Regions from separate parts of the Homo sapiens genome. Here all the other regions are reported to be linked to region 2. Evidence: microRNA targets listed by miRTarBase, many of them from high-throughput screens and not tested one by one. Region 2 holds a microRNA gene; each other region holds the end of a gene's coding sequence.
The links. Region 2 holds the annotated microRNA hsa-miR-4258 (CCCCGCCACCGCCUUGG, at 2,704-2,720, opposite strand). A microRNA usually pairs through its seed, bases 2 to 8, with sites in the 3' UTR of a target mRNA and lowers its output. Matches are read on the target gene's strand: a 7mer-m8 pairs with bases 2 to 8, a 7mer-A1 pairs with bases 2 to 7 and ends in A, and an 8mer does both.

Region 1: miRTarBase lists ZNF677 as a target of hsa-miR-4258. The part of its 3' UTR that is shown has no 7-base or 8-base seed match.
Region 3: the mRNA of NLRP12 is a reported target of hsa-miR-4258. The part of its 3' UTR that is shown has no 7-base or 8-base seed match.

What each region holds. Positions count from the first base shown.
Region 1 is chr19:53,233,579-53,237,578 of GRCh38, forward strand. ZNF677 (zinc finger protein 677) reads right to left here. Exons shown (of 5, transcript NM_182609.4): 5 at 1,803-4,000. The coding sequence ends at 3,394. Among named protein-coding and RNA genes, the nearest start is that of ZNF677, 19 kb to the right of the region's middle.
Region 2 is chr1:154,974,303-154,978,422 of GRCh38, reverse strand. MIR4258 (microRNA 4258) reads right to left here and starts at 2,730; the gene lies at 2,640-2,730. It overlaps CKS1B (CDC28 protein kinase regulatory subunit 1B), which reads right to left and starts at 3,742. Exons shown (of 3, transcript NM_001826.3): 1 at 3,619-3,742; 2 at 309-436. The coding sequence starts at 3,677. It also overlaps a transcript of SHC1 not described here. RefSeq lists enhancers at 3,337-3,396, 3,497-3,646, 4,097-4,120 and a silencer at 3,917-4,006.
Region 3 is chr19:53,790,722-53,794,721 of GRCh38, reverse strand. It overlaps NLRP12 (NLR family pyrin domain containing 12), which reads left to right. Exons shown (of 10, transcript NM_144687.4): 10 at 586-981. The coding sequence ends at 673. Among named protein-coding and RNA genes, the nearest start is that of MIR373, 4.0 kb to the right of the region's middle. RefSeq lists enhancers at 1,575-2,075, 2,076-2,576.

The DNA of each region.
Region 1 (4,000 bases), not on the chromosome of region 2:
TGTTAGCCAGGATGGCCTTGATCTCCTGACCTCGTGATCCGCCCATCTCGGTCTCCCAAAGTGCTGGGATTACAGGCATCAGCCACTGCACCTGGCCCATAATAGCCTAATTTCAAACAGTAGAAAGAGTTCAAATCTCCATCAAATAATGAATGGACAGACAAACTGTAGAATATTATTCAGCAACAAAAAGTGATGAGGTATTAGGCTGGGTATGGTGGCTCACACCTGTAATCCCAGCACTTTGGGAGGCCTAGGCAGGCAGATCACTTGAGGTCAGGAGTTCGAGATCAGCCTGGCCAATATGGTGAAACCTTGTGTCTATTAAAAATACAAAAATTAGCTGGGCATGGTGGTGCATGCCTGTAGTCCCAGCTACTCGAGAGGCTGAGGCAGGAGAACCGCTTGAGCCTGGGAGGTGGAGGTTGCAGTGAGCTGAGATTGTGCCACTGCACTCCAGACTAGGCACCAGAGTTAGACTCTGTCTCAAAAAAAAAAAAAAAAAAAGTTATGAGGTACTAACAAATGTTAATTTTGGGTGGGTGGTATTTTTTATAGTGACAGTTTGCCCAGGCTAGTCTCGAATTCCTGGGCTTAAGCGATCCGCCCATCTTGGCCTTCCAAAGTGTTAGAATTACAGACATGAGCCACTGTGCCTGGCCTAGAAATTGATTTTTTTTTTGGACAGGGCCTTGCTCTGTCACCTAGGCTGGAGTGCAGTGGCATAATCCTAGTTCACTGTAACCTCCAACTCCTGAGCTCAAGGAATTCTCCTGCTTCAGCCTCCTGAGTAGCTGGCACTATAGAAATGTGCCACCATGCCCAACTAACTTCTAAATTTGCAGACAGGGTCTTGACATATTGCCTATGCTAGTCTCAAACTCCTGGGCTCAGGCAATCTCCTCGCCTGGGCCTCTCAAAGTGCTGACATTACAGATGTCAGCCTCCCTGCCCAGCCGGCTAGCTGAAAATTTAAACCACAGATGAGTATTCACTCCAGCCCCACCAGATAAACATCATAACACCCCAAGTCAATCATCTTTCACTGCCTTCTCTAGCCATTTTTTAACCAGCTTGGGAAGTCTACCCTGTTCTCTCCAGAAAGCCTTTTGTAATAAACATTCTTATAATACTTTGATGTAGAGTACCACCAATCCTGAAATCTAAACCAAACTTTGCACGGGGTTCCCTCCTGTTCCAGTGGAGTGGCGACAAGTGCAAATCAGTAAAAAAAAATGTTTTGGGGGTAAATACATGAGGTTTCTAGTTTCTTTAAAAAAAAAATCCATTGCTTATGTTCATTATTAAGGGGAAACTCATGAACACTGATTTTTTTCAAATTATTTCACGGAGTGCTCCAAGTACAAAAAAAGAAGTTGTGTTATTATTTCAGAAATTTCATTTACTAATAATTTTCATATGCTTACATTTGTTATTTTCCTCTCATGTAAAAGGCATGCAGAAATAAAGTTATGTAGAAAAAAAGGCATGTAGAAATATAACTGCACAGTGCATATTCATGAACAGGAAGACAGGTTTCAGGGGGTCTGATATTGTCCCACTATGGCATGGCATTTTCATTATAGCCATAGAAGTCATCTAGGGCAGAGTGTGGAGAAAATATTTCAAGTGCAAATTATGAATATATACTTCTTAAATTGTATACTGTTTGAACATAACATGGATAGAAATTGTTATAGATGACATTCAACCTTGAGAGTCTAATGATGTATTATAGTGTTTGATATTAAGTGTCCCAATGAGGTGGGATATGCTTGGGTTGACGGAAGGCACACGATTCATTCAGGGTTACTAAAAATGATTATATTTTACTAATTAAGACATAAGAAGTATAATATATTCTAAATAAAATGGTATCAAATGCAATCTCAGGGGCCAAATGTGAATCCCCTATAAGAACACTACTCTGGTTCTTTTGATGGAACTGTCCTCTATGGTAACCATTCTCTCTTCAGTTTCCAAAAATAAGACCTATCTATGTTCAATAATCTGTGATATGCAACAGTAACTACCTTTCAAGAGAGGGTGACTATCATTCCCCCTCCATTTCTTTCTACCACATATGCAGTCTCTAGTAACCGACCATTTCACTTCCATGAAAATCTCTCAATGTCCCACCCTACTCTTCTTGTTTCATGGTCATCTTGTACTGTAACCAATCTCTCCTATAATCGACAAAGGTCCCCAGTCACATCAACAATTCTAAGGGGTCCTGACCACATAAAGCATATATGTTAGACAATAGTTTTACCTCTCTTCTGGCACAAACCCCCATGCTCTTATAGTATATTGTATATTAGTGTTCTTGGCTGGGCACGGTGGCTCATGCCTGTAATCCCAGCACTTTGGGAGGCCAAGGCAGGTGGATCACCTGAGGTCAGGAGTTCAAGATCAGCCTGGCCAACATGGCGAAACTCTGTCTCTACTAAAAATACAAAAACAAAAAAACAAAAAACTAGCCAGGCATGATGGCGCATGCCTGTAATCCCAGCTACTCGTGAGGCTGAGGCAGGAGAATTGCTTGAACCCGGGAGACAGAGGTTGCAGTGAGCTGAGATGGTGCCACTGCACTCCAGCCTGGGTGACAGAGCAAGACTCTGTCTCCAAAAAAAGAAAAAATTAGTGTTCTTGCTTTTTCCAGGTTTCAGTAATATAAAGAAGCCACACCTAAGGAAGTAGTCCCTTCCATCTTACATCCATTCCTTGAGACAATCATGATAAATGAAAAGCATGCCATGAAGATTTAACAGCAACAGATTTCATACTTTTAAAAATATGAAATAACTGAATAAAAAATTTTTAACACTGAAGTTACATCTTTCCACAGATGTCCTTGCTCCTCTGACACACACCATGAGTTTGTGACTTTTTAAAATTGTCTGTGAATTTAACATCAATCACTTAATCTTCAAGAAGGAAAAAAGACTTAGTTCCCTCTAGCCTGAATTTTTGTATGACAAAATGCTTGCATATAAGGATGAATTTCCATTGAGAAATTTAAAATAATTTACCACCTTCACTTGTAATGCTTCTCTCCAATATGAATGGTGTATCCTGAAGTCAGAACATTGCTTAAAGGACTTGCCACATTTGTATGGTTTCCATCCTGAATGTCTTCTGTTATAACCATAATAGGGTAAATATTTTTATAAAGCTGTTCACATTCATTATATTTGTAAGGCTTCTCTACAGTAAGAATTCTATGATGTTCCACAAGGCTTGAACTTTGGATAAGCCTTGCCATACATGTTATCTTTGTGTGGTTTATCTCAAAGATGTATATTCTGGTATCAAGTGAGACATAAGCCATAGCTAAAGGCTTTACCACATTTTCGTTTTATATGGTTTCTTTTCACAATGGAGCCCCTGATGCTAGGTACAGCTTGAATACTTAATTTTTGTCTCATTATATTTGATATGTTTTTCTCTATTATAACTTTTTTGATGATCTCCAAGGTTTGAACTTTGGAATAAAGCATTACCATGTATATTATGTTTACAATGTTTCTTTTCAATGTGTATTTTCTGGTGTCTAGTGAGGTTTGCAAATTGGGTAAAAGCTTTGCCACATTCAGTACATTTGTAAGGTTTCTCTCCAGTATGGATTTTCTTATGCTGAGTAAGATTTGAACGTTCAGTAAAGGCTTTGCCACATTCAGTACATTTGTAAGGTTTCTCTCCAGTATGAGTTCTCTGATGACCCCAAAGGTGTGAACGTTTGATAAAAGCTTTATCACATTTATTACATTTGTAAGGTTTTTCTCCAGTGTGAATTCTCTGATGTTCCACAAGACTTGAACTTTGGATAAAAGCCCTGCCACACACATTACATTTGTGTGGTTTCTCTCCAGGATGTATATTCTGATGCCTAGTGAGATGTGAGCACTGCTTAAAAGCTTTGCCACACTCATTACATATGTAAGGCTTCTCTCCAGTATGGATTCTCTTATGTTGGGTAAGGCTTGAACGTTCAGCAAAG
Region 2 (4,120 bases):
ATCCAAGAATGTTTTCGATGGAGAATGAGGCAGGGGCTATGATCAGGCTATATGTGGCCTTAAAAAGAATACCCTCTGATTGAATGAAAGATTACAGGAGGTTTTTCAGTGACAGGTTGTCTCTGAACTTCCCAGATATTTTAGTCTTATTTTTGGTCACTAGTTTTTTTTTAAAAAAATCCCCCACGACTGGAGGGGGAAGGAACCAGTAAACCATTTCCTATCTCCCTATTTGGGTTATACAATCTTATTCTTTCATTCTCTCAGTGTAGCAGTTCTATATGGTTGTTTTTAGCCAGTGCACTGACCTGGTTCATGGATCATATAATGGACCCATCCCTGACTCTGCTGAACGCCAAGATTCCTCCATTCAGATTCAGACATCAGATGGGTTTTAGGGACCAGCTTGGCTATGTCCTTGGGCAGCATGACATGTCTGTAACAGAAACGGGGAAGTGGGGAATTTATGTTAGTACCAGATACAGTCTCTTAGACAAATGCCTGTTTACAAGGCCAAGAAAGGAAAGAAAAACTGGTTTTTGATGTCAGAGTTTATATAATTTTATTGTGGGGTAGCAGCAGCTAGAAATACAGGCTATGTTATATAAATTCCGAGAGTATATTAAAAATACAAATTAGTGAATAATTCCAGTGAATGAGCACTTAAGTTCAAGGCACATTTTCTCCGCCTTCATGGACCTTATAGTCTTCTAGTTGATTATCTACAACATAATGGGAGCCCCACGGAGCACACAGTGTTAATAATTAGAAGGAAGGAAGAGAAGTTATTTTGTGGCGAGGAAAGGCCTTTTATGAAGTACTGTGTGGACAAGTTATTACAAAGGATGAAATGAACTATCTTGTCCTTTAAAATCTAAGCCAGGCATGGTGGCACAAACCTACAGTCCCAGCTACTTGGGAGGCTGAGGCAGGAGGGTCATTTGAACCCAGGAGTTTGAAAAAGATACAGTATGAAGTTTGAAATCTGATTAAAATACAGAAGAAATAGGCCAGGGGCGGTGGCTCATGCCTGTAATCCCAGCACTTTGGGAGGCTGAGGTGGGTGGATCACTTGAGGTCAGGAGTTGGAGACCAGCCTGACCAACAACGTGAAACCCCGTCTCTACTAAAAATACAAAAATTAGCCGGGTGTGGTGGCATGCACCTGTAATCCCAGCTATTTGGGAGGTTGAGGCAGGAGAGAATCCCTTGAATCCAGGAGGCGGAGGTTGCAGTGAGCTGAGATCTGGGCGATAGAGTGAGATTCCGTCTCAAAAAAAGAGAAAAAAAATAAGAAAAAAGAAAGGGCTGCAATGCACAATGGTTGTGCCTGTGAATAGCCACTGCACTCCAGTCTGGGCAACAAAGCAAGACCTTGTCTCTTAAAAAAAAAATTAAATCTATCCTGAATCTTATTTTCCTAACTCTGGAGGGATGTACCTTGAGACTTTCTGGGTAAATTCCGTGCTTTTCTAACCAAGGATAAGTCTCCCTTCATAGCAAAAAAATTATTACCCTGATGTGAATCAAACTAATCCACATAGTCTTCGTCATGCTCAATGAAAATGTACTAAGTTCTCCCTCTGTGCTAGTAACAGTGATTCCCCACCATTCTCCTAAAAGAAAAAATTCTAGTCCAAATATAATGAAAATAGCTCACATTCTAACACCACCCTGGCACGAAATTTGGCTTCAATACATACACCAAAAAACCCCTCTTAAACCAAAGTGCCACTGCCAAGAGTTTCATCTTCCAGGGGATGAAATGGTGATTCCTTCCCAGCTCCACAAATCTCTTATAAGCACATACAGTTTTAAGTTAGTTTAGTTCAGATGTAGAGGAAAACAGCTGAGGAAAAGAAAGTTAATTAAAGGAGGGTCTGGAGCCGTCTTGGCATAAAGATGATTATGTATTTGTCAATGCACATCGAGTTCTCTGGAAGACCCAAAGCCCTGAACTAGGCTGGGTGAAGAGACACAAGAAAAGCAAGTTTTCATTTTATGTTCTCCAACTGAGGAGACAAGATACAAACCAGGAAGTGGTCTTAATTATTACAATTAATACAGATTAGCATAATGCCAACATTTGTGGAATCCTGTGTCTTCCCTTATTCCCAATCTAGATTATGCACTTAAAATTTATCAAGCCCGAATGCCACATCCAGTGCCAGGATTCCATCATCACCATCCTTGGCAGATGGCTATCCAGTGTCTTCTAAACAATTTCAGTCAAGAGGTGCTTCCTCCCACATACCTTTTTCTTAGAGTCTCATCTCAGGCTCTGCCCTCTAGGAAGCTTTCCCCAACATTCCCTCTTCCGTTTTTCCTCTCAGTATTTTAAGTTTCATGTTCAAGGGTACATGTGCAGGTTTGTTATATAGGTAAAATCCTGACTCGGGGGTTCGGTGTACAGGTTATTTCATCACCCAGGTACTAAGCATAGTACCCGACAGTTTTTTTTTTTCCTGAACCTCTACCTCCTCCCACCCTCCTCCCTCAAGCAGGCCCCAATGTCTGTTGTTCCCCTCTTTCTGTCCCTGTGTTTTTATCTCCGACATATAAATGAAAACACGCGTAGTTTACTACTGGTTTCGTTTTCAATGGTGGTGAAAGAGACATCACGCTGAATTGGCCCTTAGGACACTCCCCCGCCCCCAAACCAAGCCCAGGGAAGAAGACCGACCGAAAGTAAGAGGTCAGCCTCCAAGGCGGTGGCGGGGCGGGGGGCGTTCTCGAAGCGTGGGATGGGGGAGCGTCCTGGAGTTAGCAAAAGTAGGGGACTGACTTTCTAGCCCCACCTCAACCCCCGCTCACAGCTAGGAAGCCGCAGCCTTCGGGTCGCCAGTTCCCTCTCCTTAGCAAGTCTTGTGTGCTCCCATCACACCCTGTAATGGCTCCTTGCATAGCGTGTGTCACCTTTCTGGTGTCTGTCGGTACCACCCACAGATTTTTAAATTTGTGAACAGCAGAGACCATGTGTTATCCTTGCACTTTAGCAGAACACCTGAAACCTGTTAAGTATTCCGTAACTGTTCCCTTTGATATTTAAAGGGCATCTATTAGACCCATATTAAGTATTTTCTCAATGCTCCTAGCCAGTTTTATTCCATTGCAGTCCCAAGCGATCCCCTTCCTTACACAAGCCAGACAACCACGCCCCTTGTCTTTTTCACGAGTTAATAAGCAATATTCAACTCTCTCAGCGCTACTCTCCTGTTAGGGACGCCAGGAAACTTCCAGCTCCGCTTTTGCTACGTTCTCCCACTGGATTCGACAAGATTACTGTGAAACAGTCTCTACAAGGCAAGTTAAGTTTGCCCGATAAAGTTCAGAGAATGATCCAGAAAGCCTCATGGGTGAGGGTGGTCAGTACCCTAACCACGCCCACCCCTCTCTCCTCTCTACTGAGAGGCGACTCCAAATTCGCAACCACTTTGTTTTACGAGCGCCTCCCACCTCCGCGCATGCGCCTTACGCCTTCCACAATATCACACCATTGCCCGTTCGCACCTCGTACGCATGCGCCAATTCTATCGCCTCAGTTCCTGTTACTAATTCCTTGTGCCCTCAGCGGCCAAAGCTCACGACCCTCGCTATTGCTCCCGCGCCAGCACTAACCGATACTCAAACTCCTCGTCGTCGTATTTGTCCGAATAGTAAATTTGTTTGTGCGACATGATCGCTCGGTTTGCTAGCCTTCAGCCCCGCGCCGCCAACCTCCAAGCAACTCCCAACAGCACGCGCTCCCACCCACTTTGGCCTCGCTTTCAAACACGCCGCCCGCACTTCCTATTGGTCCGTTTGGCTCGAGGCGGGACACCTCTACTTTCAAGCCTCCGATTGGCTTAGATTTACTTCTCTTCGGATCCTTATTGGAGGGCAGTTCTCACGCTTCTCAAGAACGAGCGTGGGTCAAAAGTAGGCGTCTTATTGGCCACCACTGCCTTTGTGCGCGATCTCGCGCTGCCATTGGCTAACTCGGGAAAGTGGGAAGCGTGAAGGAGGGACCCTGAGGTAGAGGGTCAGGGGTTAGTGAGGCCGGAAGTGAGTGTAATAAAGTTTCTCCAGGGAGGCAGGGCCCGGGGAGAAAGTTGGAGCGGTAACCTAAGCTGGCAGTGGC
Region 3 (4,000 bases), not on the chromosome of region 2:
GCACTCTAGCCTGGGCAACAGAGCAAGACTCCATCTTGGGGAAAGAAAAAAAAAATGGAGAACATAGTTGCATCTTCATAAGGCTATGATAAATTATGAATTGGCCAGGTGTGGTGGCTCACACCTGTAATCCCAGCACTTTGGGAGGCCGAGGTGGGCGGATCACGAGGTTAGGAGACTAGGACCATCCTGGCTAACACGGGTGAAACCTTGTCTCTACTAAAAATACAAAAAATTAGCCGGGCGTGGTGGTGGGCGCCTGTAGTCCCAGCTACTGGGGAGGCTGAGGCAGGAGAATCGCTTGAACCTGGGAGGTGGAGGTTGCAGTGAGCTGAGATTGCACCACTGCACTCCAGCCTGGGTGACAGAATGAGACTGTGTCTCAAAAAAAAAAAAATTATGCAGTTAACACAGCTTGGGGACTTGCATGTAGCATGTAGTAAGCCTACTTTCCAGCAGCGTTGGGTGGAATTTCTGGAGGATCATGGAATTATCTTACCACGGTAGTGCACAATAGATACTTAAGGCTTATTAATTGAATGCCACAGTAGTACACTGGAATAATATCAACTCTTGTGTCCACAGGTTATTTGGGATGGACCTGAATAAAATGACCCACAGTAGGTTGGCAGCGCTTCGAGTAACAAAACCTTATTTGGACATTGGCTGCTGAATGGTCCTATCTGCTGGCTCTCCCCTGAGATCTGGACAGAGGAAGATGGGAGGGTGCTCATCACCCCCCCAGCATAATGATCAGCCTCCTTCCTAGAGACAGACTCATGCAGATTGAGATCAAAAGTCCCTCTGCTTGGGATCAAATTAATGTTTGACAGAGCTGGCCAGGCGTGGTGGCTCATGTATGTAATCCTAGCACTTCGAGAGGCCGAGGCAGGTGGATCACGAGGTCAGGAGTTTGAGATTAGCCTGGCCAAGATGGTGAAACCCTGTCTCTACTAAAAATAAAAAAAAATTAGCCAGGCATGGTGGCGGGCACCTGTAGTCCCAGCTACTCAGGAGGCTGAGGCAGGAGAATCGCTTGAACCCGGGAGGTGGAGGTTGCAGTGAGCCGAGATCGCGCCACTGCACTCCAGCCTGGGCGACAGAGTGGGACTCCATCTCAAAAAAAAAAAAAAAAAAAGTTTGACGGAGCTTTAAGGGATGACCAACTAAGAGAGGTTTGATGGCCCCTAACAGGAGGGGTAAATCCCAACAGGGGCCAGGTGCGGTGTCTCACGCCTGTAACCCCCGTACTTTCAAAGGTGGAGGCAAGATGGGTTGCTTAAGTCTAGGAGTTAGAGACCAGCCTAAGCAACATAGCAAGACTCCACTGTTACTAATTAGCCAACTACTATTAATTAGTACAATTAATTACCCAGGAGTAGCAGCACATGCCTGTAGTCCCAGCTACTCTGGGGACTGAGGTGGGAAGATCGCTTGAGCCCAGGAGGTCGAGGCTGCAGTGAGCTGTCATTGCATCACTGCGCCCCAGCCTGGGCAACAGAGGGAGACGGTGAAAAATGGCCAGTAGGGGCCCTCAGAGGCCACCCAGCCCTGCCAAGCCCTGGCTGCATCGGAACATAGTAATATTTGAGCTCTGGGGTGGGTGCCACTGCCATCTAGTGGACGACACTAGGAATGCATGCCAACATCCAGCAAGGAATGCACAGGACAAAGCACTTGGTCCAAAGGCAAATTGTGCCAAGTTGAGGAAAGCCTATTCTCAAATGTCACAGGATACATGGGGCAACTCAGCATTTGGGAAGAGACTGGTATGCAAGCTAACCCTCAGAATGCTTGTTATGCCAACAGCCCTGATCCTCCCTTGCTGGAGGGGATAATGTCTGAAATCTTAACGTGGCAGGCATGTCAGGATGGCCCCCTGCCTGGAATTCACTGGGCCCTGCCAAGAACTGACACCTACAAGGCCACGTGTAGGCTGGCCATAACCTATTATACACTGTGCTTTCAACAAAAATACCGCCAGATGCGGTGACTCATGCCTGTAATCCAAATACTTTCGGAGGCCAAGGCAGGCAGATCAGCTGAGGTTAGGAGTTCGAGACCAGCCTGGCCAACATGGTGAAACCTACTAAAAATACAAAAATTAGGCTGGGCACGGTGGCTCATGCCTGTAATCCCAGCACTTTGGAGGCCGAAGCGGGCGGATCACTAGGTCAAGAGATCAATACCATCCTGGCTAACACAGTGAAACCCCATCTCTACTAAAAATACAAAAAATTAGCTGGGTGTGGTGGCATGCACCTATAGTCCCAGCTGCTGGGGAGGCTGAGGCGGGAGAATCGCTTGCACCTGGGAGGCAGAGGTTGCAGTGAACCGAGATCGCACTACTGCACTCCAGCCTGGGCGACAGAGCGAGACTCCATCTTAAAAAAAAAAAAAAAAAAAGGGTGTGGTGGCTCACACCTGTAATCCCAGCACTTTGGGAGGCCAAGGAGGGCAGATCACCTGAGGTCGGGAGTTCAAGACCAGCCTGACCAACATGGAGAAACCCTGTCTCTAATAAAAATATAGAATTAACCAGGCGTGATAGCACATGCGGGTAATCCCAGCTACTCGGGAGGCTGAGGCAGGAGAATCACTTGAACCCGGGAGACAGAGGTTGCAGTGAGCAGAGATCACGCCATTGCACTCCAGCCTGGGTGATAGAGACGCCGTCTCAAAAAAAAAAAAAAAAAAAAAAAAAAGAGGAATCCATATTCCCTTGGCTGGGTGCAGAGGCTCACGCTTGTAATCCCAGCACTTTGGGAGGCCAAGGCGGGTGGATCACAAGGTGAGGAGATCAAGACCATCCTGGCCAACATGGTGAAACCCCGTCTCTACTAAAATACAAAAAATTAGCAGGGCGTGGTGGAGGGCGCCTGTAGTCCCAGCTACTCAGGAGGCTGAGGCAGGGGAACCACTTGAACCCAGGAGGCGGAGGTTGCAGTGAGCCGAGATTGTGCCACTGCACTCCAGCCTAGTGACAGAGCAAGACTCTAAAAAAAAAAAAAATGCATATTCCCATTTCAATACACAGAAACCTATATTCCCATTATTAGGAATTCGAACTAAGAATCTTTAAACTATGTCACTGCCCGGTGGGAAATCAGGTCCCCATGCTGTGCTCAGCCCACACACTGGAGATCTACAGACCAGAACCTGCAAGGAGACTGAGGCAGTTTCAGAAAAAGTGACCTTACAACTCCAGAGATCAGATACTGATTCAGTCCTGTAGACATAATTGTCCCATTGGCCAGGTGCAACAGCTCATGTCTAATTCCAGCTCTTTAGAAGGCCAAGAATTTTTACACCAACCTTAAGGTGCCGCCTGAACACAAAAAAATTATCTACTCTATGTACTACTATCTATCTACCCCAGAAGGGGTATTCATGCATAGACCCAGCTACTGAAGCTGAGGAAAAATGCTTGAGTCCAGGAAGTGGAGGCTACACCTAGCTCGACAGAACCGCTACATTCCAGCCTAGATGACATGATCGTCTACAAAAAAGAAACTAAAAATGGCCCACCATTACCACGTAAAACTGTGCCTTAAGCTTTCTGCAATCCCAGCACTTTGGGATAAGAGATTGTTTAGGTTTCAAGACCAGATTGGGCAACATAGTGGGATCCTATCTCTAAATTTTTTAAAAAGTTATTTACCCAATATTCTTTATATGTCTGCATTCAGTCCTGTTTCCACAGCTGCTTCTGAAGCAAACAGCCCTGCTTACAAACCACCCCCACCTACACCCTGCTGGCCATACAGGCTAAACCCTAAACAAGCTTAAGAAACTCAACTAAAGGCTGGGCGCAGTGGCTCAAACCTGTAATCTCAGAATTTTGGGAGGCCAAGGTGGGTGGATCACTTGAGGTCAGGAGTTTAGTGAGACCAGCCCGGCCAACATGGGGAAACGCCATCTGTACTAAAAATCCAAAAAAAATTAGCTGGGCATGGTGGTGGGTGCCTATAATACCAGCTACTCGGGAGGCTGAGGCAAA